Regions from separate parts of the Homo sapiens genome. Here region 1 is linked to region 2. Evidence: fine-mapped expression QTL. Tissue or cell type: whole blood. Region 2 holds a variant in brackets; the other region holds the start of a gene. All regions are shown on one strand. Distances are from middle to middle.

What was found. PIP is the estimated chance that this variant, and not a neighbour inherited with it, causes the effect.
Region 1: it holds the start of SLC9B2, and the variant in region 2 is fine-mapped to the expression of SLC9B2 in whole blood (INTERVAL, PIP 0.99).

The regions. Positions count from the first base shown.
Region 1 is chr4:103,071,672-103,079,780 of GRCh38, forward strand. SLC9B2 (solute carrier family 9 member B2) reads right to left here and starts at 5,090. Exons shown (of 12, transcript NM_178833.7): 1 at 4,513-5,090. It overlaps BDH2 (3-hydroxybutyrate dehydrogenase 2), which reads right to left. Exons shown (of 10, transcript NM_020139.4): 10 at 5,921-8,084. The coding sequence ends at 8,031. RefSeq lists a silencer at 4,750-4,859 and an enhancer at 4,970-5,089.
Region 2 is chr4:102,745,320-102,753,428 of GRCh38, forward strand. The region is part of intron 1 of MANBA (mannosidase beta); the gene reads right to left. It also overlaps the pseudogene WDR12P1. Among named protein-coding and RNA genes, the nearest start is that of MANBA, 12 kb to the right of the region's middle. The variant T/C (reference allele first, on the strand shown) is at 4,291.

The DNA.
Region 1 (8,109 bases), 330 kb after region 2:
CGGCTAATTTTTGTATTTTTAATAGGGATGGGTTTCACTATGTTGGCCAGAATGGTCTCAAACTCCTGACCTCAAGTGATCCACTGGCCTTGGCCTCCTAAAGTGCTGGGATTAGAGATGTGAGCCACCCTGCCTGGCCCTAATTTTAAATACATTTAAAAATAATCTACTCAATTCCTAAAGCTTTAGAGAAAAGAAAATGGTACCACATTTCTTGGTAATATTTCTCATAGATACAGTCTGGTGATTTGATTTGAGGTAACTTAATAACACCTGCCACAATTTAAAATCATTTTTTGTAGTTGTGATTTTTCAAAGAAGATGAGTAACTGCCCAGAATCACCAATAGCAGTGGTTTTCAAAATTTTCAAGTTTGGCTTTCATGTTTTTTTTTTTTTTTTTTTTGAGGTGGAGTTTCGCTCTTTTGCCCAGGCTGGAGTGCAGTGGCGAGATCTCAGCTCACTGCAACCTCTGCCTTCCGGTTTCAAGCTATTCTCCTGCCTCAGCCTCCCGAGTAGCTGGGATTAAAGGTGCCGGCCACCATGCCCAGCTACTTTTTCTATTTTTAGTAGAGATGGGGTTTCACCATGTTGGCCAGGCTGGTCTCAAACTCCTGACCTCATGATCTGCCCGCCTTGGCCTCCCAAAGTGCTGGGATTACAGGCGTGAGCCACCGCACCCAGCCCTGGTCTTCATATCTTTATGTCAAATATCTTTCATCAAATGAAACCTAATCCTTAAATCCTACAAATGGAACGACTAAGGTGGCGCTGCAGGAGCCCTGTCTACTCACCCCTGTTCCTTCTGGCAAGTGGAGCATACTTTGGAAACCATTTCTGTAAATATGTTTTCACATAGAGAGATATTTGTTAAATGTTCTCTTTTTCATATTATCTTACTAATGTAAATGTTTACAAGTACTTTCTGTAATATTCCAGAAGAAATAAAGGAACTATCAACTTACAAATGTCCGTAGGCTCTCGGTCAAGTAAAATAGACTTACTGCTATCATTTCAGTTACTGCTAAAAGATATGGATAAAGACTTTTTATTCTTGCTATTTGCTGCCTGTGATTTGGATAGGCTGACATTTAAAGGAGTAATCTTATGGAGAATTTACATATATTGCTTGCTATGGCTTGAATGTTTGTGTCCCTCCAAAATTCAGATTTTGGAATGTAACTGCCAAGGTGATGGTATTAAGAGGGAGGTACTTTGGGGAAGTGATTAAGTCACCAGCACTCAACCCTCATGAATGGGACTAGTGCTCTTATAAAAGAGGTCAAAGGGAGCAGCCTAGTCCCTTTGGCTCTTTCCCTTCCACCATCTGAGAACACAGCATTAGTCTCTTCCTCCATGTGAAGAAGACATGGCAAGAAGGCACCATCTTGCAAGCAGAGATCAAGTGTGTAACAGACATCAAATCTAATTAGCACCTTGACCTAGGACTTCCCAGCCTCCAGAACTGTGAGAAATAAATTTGATTATTTATAAATTAATTAGTTTGTGGTATTTTGTTACAGTAACAAAAATGGACTAAGACATTGCTAGAGTACTCTGGGTTGTATTCATGCCTTTGAAAGAGCATCACTATGATTGTTCAATACTCTATAATGATAATAATAACAACAATCTCCTGCCTTTGTGTTCATCCATTCATGTGTTGAACGTATAGGTTCTCAGTCTCATACAGTATTTCTACATAGAACATACAGAAACATTCCAGTTTCTGTATTTGCTTATCAACACTGATCTAATGGTCATTTCCCAAAAGGAGCCCTACCCAGCAATGAGGAATTCAGATCAGGCTCAGAGTAGGGCTTAACACTTTCTTAGACAATTAATTACTAAAATGACTAACAGTGTTTCCCTGAATGAGAACTACCTTATCTGAAAGACTTAGGTGTGTCAAATACATGTGGCCAAGTTACCAAAGGAAAACAACCGCTATTTTATTTGGTTAATTGATTTAGTAATTTCATTGACTCATGAAGGAAAACACTATATAATGAGATAAGAATAAAAGGAAATTACCCCTACATAAGGGACCCAATACTTGCTTTCATCCTTTCTATTCTCTCTCCTCACCAAAGTGAAATATACTTACTAAAAGTTTAAAATATTATTTCTAGGCCCACTAAAATCAGAATCTACAGAGACCGAATCTACCCCAAGTGGGACAGACATGACTTATGGCCTGTCTAAATGCCAAGTGTTCAGGTATGCCAGTAGGACCCTTCTCCCGCCCTAGGGATAAGTCATTATTGGTGTAAATCAATCTCTGTAACACCATTCCTCTTTGCCACTTATTGGCTAAGGAGTGAGCATGATTCATTTCTTGCCATTGGAATTTGTAGGCAAGACTATTGGGGCATATTACATAAGATTTTCCTTCTTAATAAAGACAGAGAGAGAGGAGGAAAATCCTCTCCTCTTTTTGTCTTTAAATGACCAGGTAAAGAGGCAAGGGAAGTTGGGATTGTGGATGGGTTTCTTGGGACAATTCTAGCAGCCATCATTCACCCATGAAGAAAAGTCAAGATTAGCTGAACACAGAAAGCAACATAGAGCCCTGATATTACTGAGCTACTGAACAAACCCTGGACCCACCTACCTTCAAACATCTTCATGTATGAGCAAAGTACATCTGTATTTTTGAAGGGAGTTTTGGCTGAATATCCTGTTACTTGCAGCCAAAAGCATCCTAACCAATATAACAGGTGATTTTGTTGCAGAACCATCCCTGAGAAGCCCTGATGAACAGCAGTGATGAGGAACCTCTGTCTTACAAACTTTAGTTTCTATCTTTCTAGCTTCTTGTTACAGTGCAAAATCATCATAGACAATGAATGATCAGAACACTGCCTTTGTATTGAAATTTCTCAAAAATGTCCAGAAAATAACATTTTATAAAGTTAAAAATTAGTGCCAAGGTTTTCACTGCCATTCTTTTAGTCAACAGAAATTATTTGGATTGTAAGATTATGTATTTCCCCTCCTCTACCCTGAAGTTAAATTGTAATATTTGAATACTGAATGAAGAAAAGTTGGACTTATAAACGTTTGGTTGTTTTCCAAATTTCCACTCATGAAACAAAACAACAACAATAAAATATCACTACTATTGCTGCCTGGAGTTTCATTTCTGCTTTTTCTACTTGAAGAAATTCAAAATCTAACTCAAATGTCACCTTCTCAGTATTTCCTAACTCCAACATTGACAAACTGTCTCCCTCGTTTTCCTCTCTGATGATTCATTCATTCATTCAACAAACAAGAGCTATTAAGCTCTTGTTACGTCCCAGTCCTTGAGCTGAGGATTCAGAAGTGAACGGTCTTAAATAGTTCCTATATTCAGATCTTGTAATCTAGTTACAGGATGATAAAGGATGATAAATGATTCCTAAGCAATCACAATGAAATATGGTTAAGTTTCAACTTTAGACACATAACAACCCCATCCCTTAACAAGTTTCATTTCCTTTTTTTTCTTTTCTGAGATGGAGTCTTGCTCTGTCACCTAGGCTGGAGTGCAGTGGCACAATCTTGGCTCACTGCAACCTGTGCCTCCTGGGTTCAAGCGATTCTTCAGCCTCAGCCTCCGGAATAGCTGGAATTACGGGCGTGCACCACCATGCCCAGCTAATTTTTATATTTTTAGTAGAGATGGGGTTTTACCATGTTGGCTAGGCTGGTCTCGAACTCCTGACCTCAGGTGATATGCCCACCTCGGCCTCACAAAGCCTTAACAAGTTTCTCTGGTGTGATAGGCACAAGAGTAACAAAGATGACTAAGATGCAGTCTGCCCTTTAAGGGATGGTCAGAGACTGATATGTGTTTACCAAAATCGTTTACTCTTCTGCCTGGGTCCATAGTACATTTCCAGTCTCCCTTGCAGGTCAGTGTGGCATGTGACTGAAGTCTGGTCAATGGCATGTGGACATAAATAGTATGTGATTTCCAGTCCTCACCCATAAGAAACAATCCTCATGCAATCCTCTAGTAGCTTTTCTTTTTCTGTCCGTTGCCTGGAAACTAAGGACTCCAAGGTCTTAGGGGATAGCAAAGCCATAATATAAAAGGAGTTTGGGTTCCTGAATAATTGAGTAGAAGGCCAACAGCTGAACACGTGAATGGACTTGACATGAACGAGAAATAAGCCTGAACTATGTTTAGTTACTGAGATGTTTTACTTTATCTCTTACAGCAGCTACTGCTGTCTTAAGGTTATATTCTTCAGTCAATAGCATACGATGATTCTTAGCACCTCGAGGATGCTAACCCAGTCCACAAAGGCAACACCCCCTCTGGTTAATCTGAGAACTAAAATAAAAGCAAGCAAGAAAACCCACGCCAACACCTTACAACAGTAAACAGACACGCGCCCGTCACCGGGTGTACAAACAGAAAAGGCTGGGCCCCTCGCTCGCGTCTCCGGTCCAGCAGGCCTACAGGGTACCCGCCGCTGGCGCTGGGTTTATTTTTACCCTTAGTGTCTCTGGGGCCTCTCACCTGGCAGTCTCCGGCGAAGTCGACCAGGCTCCGTCTGAACGATTAGGAAAGGGGCTGTGGGGGAGGCGGCGGAGCCCGGTCTAGCCACCGCGCTCTGGGGTTCCCGATTCGCGCATCTTCCCAGGCTGAGCCGGGAGGCTGCGTTGACTGCAGATAAACGGTCTCAGGGCGCGGCACCGCGTGTAGTCGGCCCCGCCTTTCGCACGAACCCGCTGGGCGACACCGCGCAGGGAGGTCCGACCCGTCGGCGCCGGTACAGGCTCCGGAGTAAGCATGGGTTGGTCCGGGGCCCGCAGCGGCAGCCCCGTGTGCCCTCCGCCGGGTTTCAGGTCCGGCGGCGCGGGTGCAGAGCCGCGTGCGATGCCTGGTGCGCGTGGCTTCCCCCGGAAAGGTGGCGCCAGGCCGACCATGGGCCCACGTCCCGGGGCCTCGGAGCGGCACCGCGCGGTCTTTCAGCTGCTTATCCTCCCTGGGCGGGTCCGCAGGCTTCTGGGGCCAGGACCAGCGAGCTCCCGGGAAAGCTTCCCGGAAAGCTTACCCAGAGAGCGCGGACCCAGGCGCCGAGTCTTCCCGGAGATGACGAGACACCGCGAGAGGAGCACAGCGCAGGCTCCTCGGGACTCCGCGGCGCAGGCCGGGCAGCCCGTTACTTGTTTTATCGTTCCCGAAACCAACCTCTAAGTTGTCTATCAGTCCTCCACCTTTTAGCTGTACCTCTTAGAAGTGTCTTCTCAGCTGCGGTGGGAAGATAGGATTCTTTCTTAAGGTGACCAATTAAATGGCCGGATAAAAGACTTGTTCTGCCCCCCTTTATCGCTTAACACCTGCCCTTCTTGTTGTATTTTAGATTTTTAACCCTTCTATCAGCAGTGTGATTCTATTTCATTTAATTCTCATTTCATGTTTGTGTCTTCCTTTTCTCTGTATTTCCTCTTGTGTGTGTTAAGACGCGCGCACCCCTTACCTGTTTTTCACTCCTGTAAGCAAGTGCCAATCTTAATCACCGCTTTTCAAGCAAGGGAGATTATCCTCAAATTTCTCCACCAGTCAGAAACCATTCATTCTTGTCTCTCAGGTCCTCTTTTGTGATGAACCTATTGGATAGGTTCCATCCAATACCCTTCTTCAGATCATCTGAAATGATTATTTTCCTAAACGGAACTCTTCCTCTCCTAAAGCTTGTAAAAATTTCTAGTGACATTCAGCTTCCTCTTACCACAGGAATGACATATATTTTTCCTTTTAGTCATATGTACTTCATTAATATATCACCTGATTTGATTAACATGACTTTGGAGAACATTGAATTTTTTGGCTAGATTTTACTTCGTTTTTATTGCTGATAGTGTTTATAAAAATGTTTTATAGTTTATGGTCGGCTGTGAGAAAGACTAACTCAGATCATTTGTTAATGTTGGAGCCCATTTTGTAGAATTCGTTGTGCATTTATTTAAAATTTATTTGTTCATAGCTATACATATATTATACATGTATACCTGCTCACAGCATAAAGTATTTCATGACATACTTGTAAGAGTCAGTGTTCTATGAATTCACTAGAGAAGTTACAGCATTTTGATTATGATACACGAAAAGAAACCCAAGTCATTTAGCTTAACTCCTTAATTTCATAAACCAGAAAACTAAAATCCAAGATAGATTGGGTGACTTGGTCTAGATCACAAACCAAAGTTAGCCATAATTCGGTAGTGTAGTGCCCGGTCCAAAACCTCATAGATAATCTTATAATCAATGGACTCTTTCTGAATGCTAGTCAAAATGTCCTTTTGTGTGAATTTTAATGTACCGTCATCAACTGCATGATATTCTTCCCCATACACAAAGTGTTATCTTTTTGTTGTCCATTTCAGAATTTTCCATGTTAATATTAAAGTTCTAGGAAAAAAGGCTAAGAATCACTGCACATTTATTGAGTATCTCAGTGTGCATCATACCATTTGGTCATTTGAGGTTGCAACAAGTAAAAAACAAACATAAAACCCTTAAATTAAAATAAAAACAAAAAACTTTGCCCTGACAATGTTACAGAATTAACATCCATAAATTTACTTTTCTTGAAAAATTTATTTTCTTTAATTTCGTTTGTTTCCTGTTACATAATTTATATTTAAATTTACATTTATTTATCCAGAAACTATGTCCAAATTTTATGTCCTCTTTTCTGTTATCCTGGAGTTTGGTGAAGAAATCTGTACTTAATTTAGAAAAGAAATCCCTCTAACTGACAATATTGTTAGCTAACTATATATTTCTTAGGCCCATGTCAAATATCATTGCTTATTTTAATAAAGATTGTTTAGTTAGACTAAGAAAATAGTAAATAATAAGGGATGGCATCCGTTAAGTATAAACACTGGATTATTTTTCATAACATAACAGGTCAACAATATCGTTTTGAGGCTGAACTCCTTTACTCCTTTTACTGTAAGCTATTGAAGCCAAACTCCTTCCTACCTTTGTTCATTTATGATGGTGTAAAATTTTAAAATTAGGATCTACATACAGAACAATGCAGAATTATATAAAAATATTTGAATATTGAAAAATGAAGTGGAAATTATTATTATTATTTAGGTACAGGGTCTTGCTCTGTCACCCTGGAGTGCAGTGGCATGATTACAGCTCACTGCAGCCTCAAACTCTTGGGCTCAAGTAATCCTCCTGCCTTAGCCTCTGTTAACCATGCTGGTCCTGAACTCCTGGCCGCAAGTGATCCTCCTGCCTTGGCCTCCCAAAGTGCAGGAATTATAGGCATGAGCTACCATGCCTAGTCCTGAAATTACTATCTTCTTCCTTAACCCCCATCTCCCCCACAAAAAAACAAAAACTTCCTTTTTTCTTCATATTTACATTTTAATTGTATATGCTGCAATGGCCTATTTGTATCACCCCAGAGTCATGTGTTGACATCCTAACCTGCAATATGATACATTAGGAGGTGGGGCCTTTGGGAGGTAATCAGGTCATAAGGGTAGTGCCCTCATGAACAGGATTAGTGTCCTTATAAAAAGACACATGAGCGCTCGCTTTTTTTCTCTGCTCTTGCTATGTGAGGATACAGCAAGAAGAGGACCATCTGCAAACCAGGAAGTGGGCCCTAACCAGAAACTATATCTGCTGGCACCTTTATCTTGCACTTCCTAGCCTCCAGACTGAAAAATAAATGTTTGTTGTCTATGACACTCCATCTATGGTAATTTGTTATAGCAGCCCAAAGTGACTAAGACAGATGCTAACAAATCGAGATTTATTTTAAAAACTATTCTCCTGCTATGAGTTCAATATTTTTATTTCTTTACAATGATTTCAGAAGAGATTACAAAGAGATTAATATACTTAAAGAATCAGACTCTTGCAAACAGTGACATCATTAAAAAGAGCTTATTTTCATTAACATGTGATTAACAGGAAGGAGATGATTGGTGAGTTTTCTTCGTAACCAGGTTCACTGTGGATAGGAAGGGCCTGCCTTCCTTCCCACCATGGAGATCCTAAAATCACAAGCTCCAGCCTCCATCAATGATGACAGGGTTACCAGTTACATAAGCAGACTGCAGTGATAAACACAAGGAGACA
Region 2 (8,109 bases):
CCTCCCCTTCATTCAAGGGTTTCTGGGCCTATAAATTTTGTGGTGGAGTGACTGTTGTTCCCACCGTTAGATCTGACATACAGAGAAGAGCAATTACAGGACTCTTCAGAGATGCAGTTGCCGCCATCACAAATCCATTTCGCAAAGCGTTGGTCAAGGGTGTATCTTCTGGACCCTCCCAGCTGGGATGGGTAGGTCCAAAGTGACCAATCCACTCCAGCATCCAATCTCCCTAAACTTTTGGATCCCTTCCTCTACATTAAACTGAGAGAGATCAGGCATTTCCAGCTTGCTCACAGTGGGCCATCTTTTATCCATATTTCAGCTAACCAAGCAAATAAACTATTAGAACCATTAAAACCTTTTTTAACTCCCTGAGCTGCAACATCAAAAGCAGAATCTCTACTTAGTGGGTTCAAATCAATAAGTCCAGCCTGATCCAACTCTATATTCCTTCCGCCATTATCTCACACCCTTAATATCCATTCCTATGACTCTTCTCCAGATTTCTGCTTATATAAATTAGAAAACTCAAGCAGTTCTTTTCTAGTGTAGCACATCTCCTCAAGGGTCACTCTGAACCTCACCTCTAGGGGTCTGCTGGGACTTTAGTCTAGGTATAGGTCTAGAAGCAAACAGGGGTGTTGGGGGTGGCTCCTGAGGAGAATCAACGTTATTTTGCCTGGCAACTGCCTCAGAGGAGGCCATCACTGTTGCCTCCAGGCAGCGCATGGTTTATCTCCTCAGACAAAGGTGGAAAGGCTGATGGCAGCATGTGTTGGGGAGGGGATGTTGCCACTACTGGGGATGAAGAAGCTGTTTCTTCTGGCAAAAAAGGTTCATCAGAGTTAACAAGCTCAGTGTCCCCAGCTTCATTAGGCCCTCCACCACACATCCCCATTCCAAGTTGCAGGGTCCCATTCTTTTCCAGTCAATCCCCTCACTTTAACAGTAGACACCTGGAAAGGCTGTGCATGCACCTTTCGTTGCAGGTCAGCCACTCACATGATAAGAGCTTGTGTCTATTTTTCCACAATTTCAGCTCTTTCTCTATAGGAGATAAGACTCTTACACAGGGTAATCTAGCAGGTGTGAGGCTCAGTACTACTTCTGAAGCTGAAAATGAATCCCTGAGCTCATCATTTTTCTTTCATCACTTTGTCCAGTGAACGTAGGAGCAACCAACCAGCTTTATTATGTTCCTTGGTTCTCCACATATGGTCAAAGGTATTATGTTTCAAGTCACTAAACTCCTTGCCTCTCACGAGCAGTGAATCAGGAGTATCAGATGCATTTATTTTGCATAACTCTCTAAACAGTTCATGCCAAGGACTATGGGTGTTCTCCATACTATTAGAAATAGAATTCTTAGGCCGGGCACTGTGGCTCACGACTGTCATCCCAGCACTTTGGCAGGCCAAGGCGGGAGGGTCATGAGGTCAGGAGATCGAGACCATCCTGGCTAACATGGTGAAACCCCGTCTCTACTAAAAATACAAAAAATTAGCTGGGCGTGGTGGCGGTCGCCTGTAGTCCCAGATACTTGGGAGGCTGAGGTGGCAGAATGCCGTGAACCCAGGAGTCAGAGCTTGCAGTGAGCAGAGATCGCGCCACTGCACTCCAGCGTGGGTGACAGAGCGAGACTCCATCTCAAAAAAAAAAAAAAAAGAAAGAAAAAGAACCTTTAGCATTTTTTGGTCTAATCACATTAAGCAGCCAACTCCAGAAACCCCAAAACCAATAAAAGAACTCCATCCTTAATATTCTGTTCCTCTAGAACCACTTCTGGTACCAAAATCTGTATTAGTCAGGGTTCTCTAGAGGGACAGAACTAATGGGATATATATATATATAAAGGGGAGTTTACTAAGGAGTATTAACTCACATGATCACAAGGTCCCATAACACGCCATCTGCAAGCTGAGAAGCAAGGAAGCCAGTCTGATTCCTAAAGGTGAAGAACTTGGAGTCTGATGTTTGAGGGTAGGAAGCATCCATCATGGGAGAAAGATAGAGGCTGGGAGGATAAGCCACTATAGTCTTTTCATGTTCTTCTGCCTGCTTTTTATTCTGGCTTTGCTGGCAGCTGATTAGATTGTGCCCATCCAGATTAAAGGCAGGTCTGCCTTTCCCAGTCCACTGAGTCAAATGTTAATCTCCTTTGACAACACCCTCACAGACACACCCAGGATTAGTACTTCGTATCTTTCAATCCAATCAAGTTGACACTCAGTATTAACCATCACAATGTTTCATTCAGAAGCTATAGTCTCCAAACTTCAGTTTCTCCTCTGTCAAATAGGATCTTCAGCTATGATTCTTACTTCAAAGGGTACACAGGTACAAGAGATCCCCAGCCCACGAGTCTGGCAACATGTTTTGGTCAGCCTTAACATTATCTTTTTCTAAAATCCTTAAATTAGTAAATATTGCTTCCCATCTAACATAGCTCTAAGTGAAAAAAGTTGCAGTTTAAGGAGAGTCCTAATTTTCTGACCAAAGAGACTAAAACTTAAAAGGGAAAACAAGACAAACTATTTGCTTGGCCCACTACAAGTCCCAGGCATTATGCAAGGTTTTCAAGGAGACACAGAGACAAGTGACACCTGACTGAAGTGTAGCGGTGGGGTTCCCAGGACTGGACCTCATGAAAGGTTAGAATAAATGCCTGCAGACAGATTCCTAGCTGATAGGAAGAGTCAGAGGAGATCACACTTGCTCAGGGAGTGAGGCTGGGCAGCTACATGGTTCCACTGCCTCTGAGATGAAGCCAGGAGGTGACTGGAGCTGACATGTGGAAGAGGCAGTTGGTGAAACCTTTTCTGCATGGGTTTGATCCCCAGCTTAATCCTAATACCTGTGAGTCTTTGTGAAGCTCAAAAAACATCTCTGTACACCTGTTTTCTCAGTTCTTGAATGGAGATAGTAATCATACCTACATGCCTCACAGGATCAGTACAAGGAGTGCATGAGACAATTATGAAGAGTGCTTAGAACAGTTCTTGGTACATAGTGTGCACTCAAAAATGATAGCTATCTTTTCTATTACATGTACTGATCTGAAATGATGTCTAAGATATATTAAGTTAAAGAAAAAGGTCAATATAAAACTATATATATATATAGAATGCAATCATCTGTGGGGGGAAAATACATGTATCTATATATGATATCTGTCTGTATATGTTTATAACATCTATGGAAGAATACACAAGAAACCGGTTAATCATGGTTGTTTCTATAGAAGGGAACTGGACCTAGAAGACAGGGATGCTTTTCATAACATAGCCTACCTTTAAAACTGTTTACTATTGGCCAGGCAAGGTGGCTCATGCCTGTAATCCCAACACTTTGGGGGGCCGAGGTGGGCGGATCACAAGGTCAGGAGTTCGAGACCAGCCTGGCCAACATGATGAAACACCATCTCTAATAAAAATACAAAAATTAGCCAGGTGTGGTGGCAGGCGCCTGTAATCCCGGCTACTCGGGAGGCTGAGGCAGGAGAATCACTTGAACCCAGGAAGCAGAGGTTGCAGTGAGGCGAGATCGTGCCATTGCACTCCAGCCTGGGTGACAAAGCAAGACTCCATCTAAAAAGAAAAAAAAAAACCCATTTGCTATTTATATCCTTTACCTGTTTCTAAATGTCATTAAGATTAATTTATCTCTTTTTTTAAAAAAAAGAAAACAATGAGCTAGGTTGATAGCGGTAGAAATGTTAAGGAATGGTTATAAGACAGTATAGATGGGACTTAAAAGATCCAGTACCTAACAACAGACGTGAGAAAAAAAAACAAAAAACTGTAACCAAGATTCTAGGCTTAGTTTCCTGAGAAAATACTTATGCTTTTATTATAAATAGGTAAAATAAGAGAAAGTAAGGGTTGGGAGAATTGAGAGAAGAAATATTTGGATATATGGAGTTTCATATGCCATGAAGACATTCAGGTAGGAGAGTTGAACAGAATTTCTAGCTGGAAATCAAGTGAGATGTGGTGGTTAGACACAAGCATTTCAGCAATTGTGGCACAGAAGTGATGGCTGAAACAAAGAGAATTCCAAGAGACGGAGAATACAGAAAGAAGTGATATATGAATTAACCCTGAGAAAATGTTTACATTTTTTGAGAGCTTTTAGCAAATGGGGTGCTTTTAGTGGCATATTTTGAACAAAAGTATATTGTACTCATGTCTCTATTTTCATCAGACACATTTAAATTAAAATAACTGTTCCATTTGTTTACTATTTACTGTTTCTGCCAATAGGCAGCGTGCAATGGTGAAAAGAACA[T/C]CGGGGTTTGAATCCTTGCTCCACCATCCATTATATGCATCATCTTAGGCAATAACTTTGCTGAGCCTCAGTCACTGTGAATTATTATACCTTTTCCAGAGGGTTGTTGCTGAAATTATATGAACAAGTGCACATGAAAGGGCCAAGAAAAGTGCATCACACGTGGAAGACATAAAATAAATGTTACATGAAAATGAATTGTATAGGCTGACTACATGCATTAATACTTATACATGATAAGGACCAGCCAACGCTTACCTAAAAATTTAGCTCTCAGGTGGTCCTTTGATTTTCAGTTCGGGGCCACGCAAAGCAAATCCTCCCATACCCTAAATACACCTCATGTGGCATCAAACAAGAAAGTATATGTCCAGGTTTAAGGATCAGGATTTTTTAAACTATCTGTTTTTTTTAAATGAGGGCTTAAAAACCTTGGACTTCTCTCTTCCCAGAAATTGAGCAACATTATTAATTGATGACTATTTCTGTTTAAATTAAATTTCAAATGCAGAGTCATTAGCTATTTTATCTCCTTAATGTCACACCTGATAGAAGCAGTCAAACTTTTTTTTTTAATTTTACTTTAAGTCAGTCAAACTTTTAGAAGAAGACATACATATCTTTAAAGGGTCATTTCCTAAAAAGCTTTTGAGATCATTTCACATCATAAAATGATCACGTAAAGCCAAATATTTCCTTAGTTTTTTTTTTATTTAAAAAACATTTTTTATCATTCTCAGTATTCAAACAAATATTTCATCCTTACAAGTCTTAAGATCTCTGTGGAAGGTTAGTATAACAACCAGAAAACCTTCTGTTTTGAGAAAAAATGTATGTTTAGTCATTTTGGATTATAATAATGGGACTCTCTTCTCTGAAACACATCAAAAATATTTCACAAGTCATAATGGTTCTGTGGTTATGTTGAAGAAAAAGGAACTCCCTATCTTTTAAAGACCCATACTGAAATGTTTGTGGATGAAATAATGTGATAACTGGGATTACTTTATAATACTAAGGGCGCCAGGAGCAGCGGTTCACACCTGTAATCCCTACACTTTGGGAGGCCGAGGTGGGAATATCGCTTGAGCCTGGGAGTTTGAGACCAGCCTGTGCAACATAGGGAGACTCTGTCTCTACAAAAAAGAAACAAATTAGCTGGGTATGGTGGTGTGTACCTGTAGTCCTAGCTACTTGGGAGGCTGAGGTGGGAGGATAGCTTGAGTCCAGGAGGTTAAGCCTGCAGTGAGCCATGACCACGCCACTGCACTTCAGCCTGGGTGACAGAGTAATACCCTATCTCAAAAAACAAAAAAAATGATAACAAAACAAAATAATAAGGGATGGCATAGTGGATAGAGAAGAAACAAAATTAGCCACGAATTGATCATGTTGAAGCCAGGTGATGGATACATGAAATTTCATTTTGCAAGTATCTCTATTTTACTATTTGTTTGAAATTCACCCAAAGTTTAACAAAATTCACATAGAAACTGCTTATTTGCTACTTAAAGAATACAAAAGTAGAATGTACACTGATGCACATATATTGTTAGAATGTACTTATGAGTGATAACCTGCAGATTGGAGACTCCATAGACAGACTCATGGCTCCTTAGAAAGAATGATTGTGGGTGGAGCAGACCCAAGGAGGAAAAGCAGAGTCCAGGCTTAGACTGCAGCTTCTCGCTTACCTGTGCAGTCTAATTTTGAGCGGCCTCTTTGTAGTTAAGAGACAGGAGCTCCCATTCTCTCTCTACTAACCCAAAAGTCTTGTGTGTACTCCTTGCCTTGGCTCAGCTCCAAACACATTTCTACACCGATAACAAGAAATATGCTGTAAATGATGTTTCCTTCTCAATCCCTGCCGCCTCTGAATTTGCTGACCTTAGTAACATCATCAATAAATTACTAAAGGACAAAAATGAGTTCCACAAACATATGGAGTTTTATTTCCTTATTAAGGGCCAGTTTCTGCGAATGTCCTTGGTCAAACACATGGAACTGGAGAACATGTCATCAGAAGTAGTTGTGGAAATAGAATATGTGAAGTACACAGCACCCCAGCCAGAGCAATGCATGTTCCATGATGACTGGATCCTTTCAGTTAAAGGGGCAAAGGAATGGATCTTGACTGGTTCTTATGATAAGACCTCTCAAATCCGGTCCTTGGAAAGAAAGTCAATAATGACAATTGTTGGACATAGGGATGTCTTAAAAGATGTGGCCTGGGCCAAAAAAAAAGATAGTTTGTCTTGCTTATTTGTGAGTGCCTCTATGGATCCAACTATTCTCTTATGGGAGTGGAATAGAGAGAAACAAAGTGAAAGCCCGACCGTGCTGCAGAGGTCATGCTGGAAGTGCAGAGTCTATAGCTGTTGATAGCTCAGGAACTAAATTTTGTAGTGGCTCCTGGGATAAGATGCTAAAGATCTGGTCTACAGTCCCTACAGAAGAAGAAGATGAAATGGAGGAATCCACAAATCGACAGAGAACACAGAGCAGCTATGACTCCCATAGTGACCCTCTCTGGTCACAAGGAAGCAATTTCCTCAGTTCTGTGGTCAGATGCTGAAGAAATCTGCAGTGCATCTTGGGACCATACAATTAGAGTGTAGGATGTTGAGTCTGACAGTCTGAAGGCAAGCTTTGACAGGAAATAAAGTGCTTAATTGTATTTCCCATTCTCCAACTTTGTAAACGTTTAGCATCTGGAAGCACAGATAGGCATACCAGACTGTGGGATCCCCGAACTAAAGACCATTCTTTGGTGTCACTGTCCCTAACTTCAAATACAGGTTGCGTGACATTAGTAAAATGGTCTCCTACCCATGAACAGCAACTGATTTCAGGATCTTTAGATAACATTGTCAAGTTGTGGGATACAAGAAGTTGTATGATCTGGCTGCTCATGAAGACAAAGTTCTGAGTGTAGACTGGATAGGGACACAGGGCTACTTTTCAGTGGACAAGCAGACAATAAATTGTATTCCTACAGATATTCACCTACCACTTTCCATGTGGGGGCATGAAAGTGAATGATAAATTGATCATAGAGATTCTTTATACAAATGAACTTGGTAGAAAATCATGAAATTATACTGATGCAGATGCAGAAAGCAGCCGTTTGAAATTTATATAATGTTTTCACTCTTCATAACAGCTAACATTTAACTATCTTTTTCTTATTTTGTATTTATAATAGTTTGTGTTTATAAAATAAAAAGAATGATTGTGACTAGCTTGTTAATCACATGTATAGCTACTATGATGTACTCTTACAGTTTATAGTTAATTAACTTACACATCTAAAATATATCTTTCTCTGGCCATTTGTCCCAATTGCATGTGAAGAATATAAGGTAATAATAAAATTTACGGAAAAAGTACTAAGTATCTGTTGCCTACCACTTTTTAGTATATGTGTATATTTATATACTTATAATTTTTATTTTCAAGTGTAGATTTTGAATAAGAACACATCTTTATAATGGGGTGTATGAAGCTATTTGCAATAATCCTGGATCTATATTTACAGACACAGACAAATATATTCATGATATGTTTTAAATGTTAAAGTAGCTAATAAAACCACCTTAGGGGATGATTTCATTTTTATGTTATATTTGTCTCTATATACTTAGAAAAAAATGTGGAAAGATAAACACTTTTTTACAGTGGTCTTTTTCTGCTTTATATTATGTGTTTTATTGGTTTTTCTTCCTTCTTTATATTTTCTGTATTTCTTTTATCCAATGAACACTACATAAATACGTATTTTTAAAAGAATTTTAATCATGTAACCTTTCTAAAGATTAA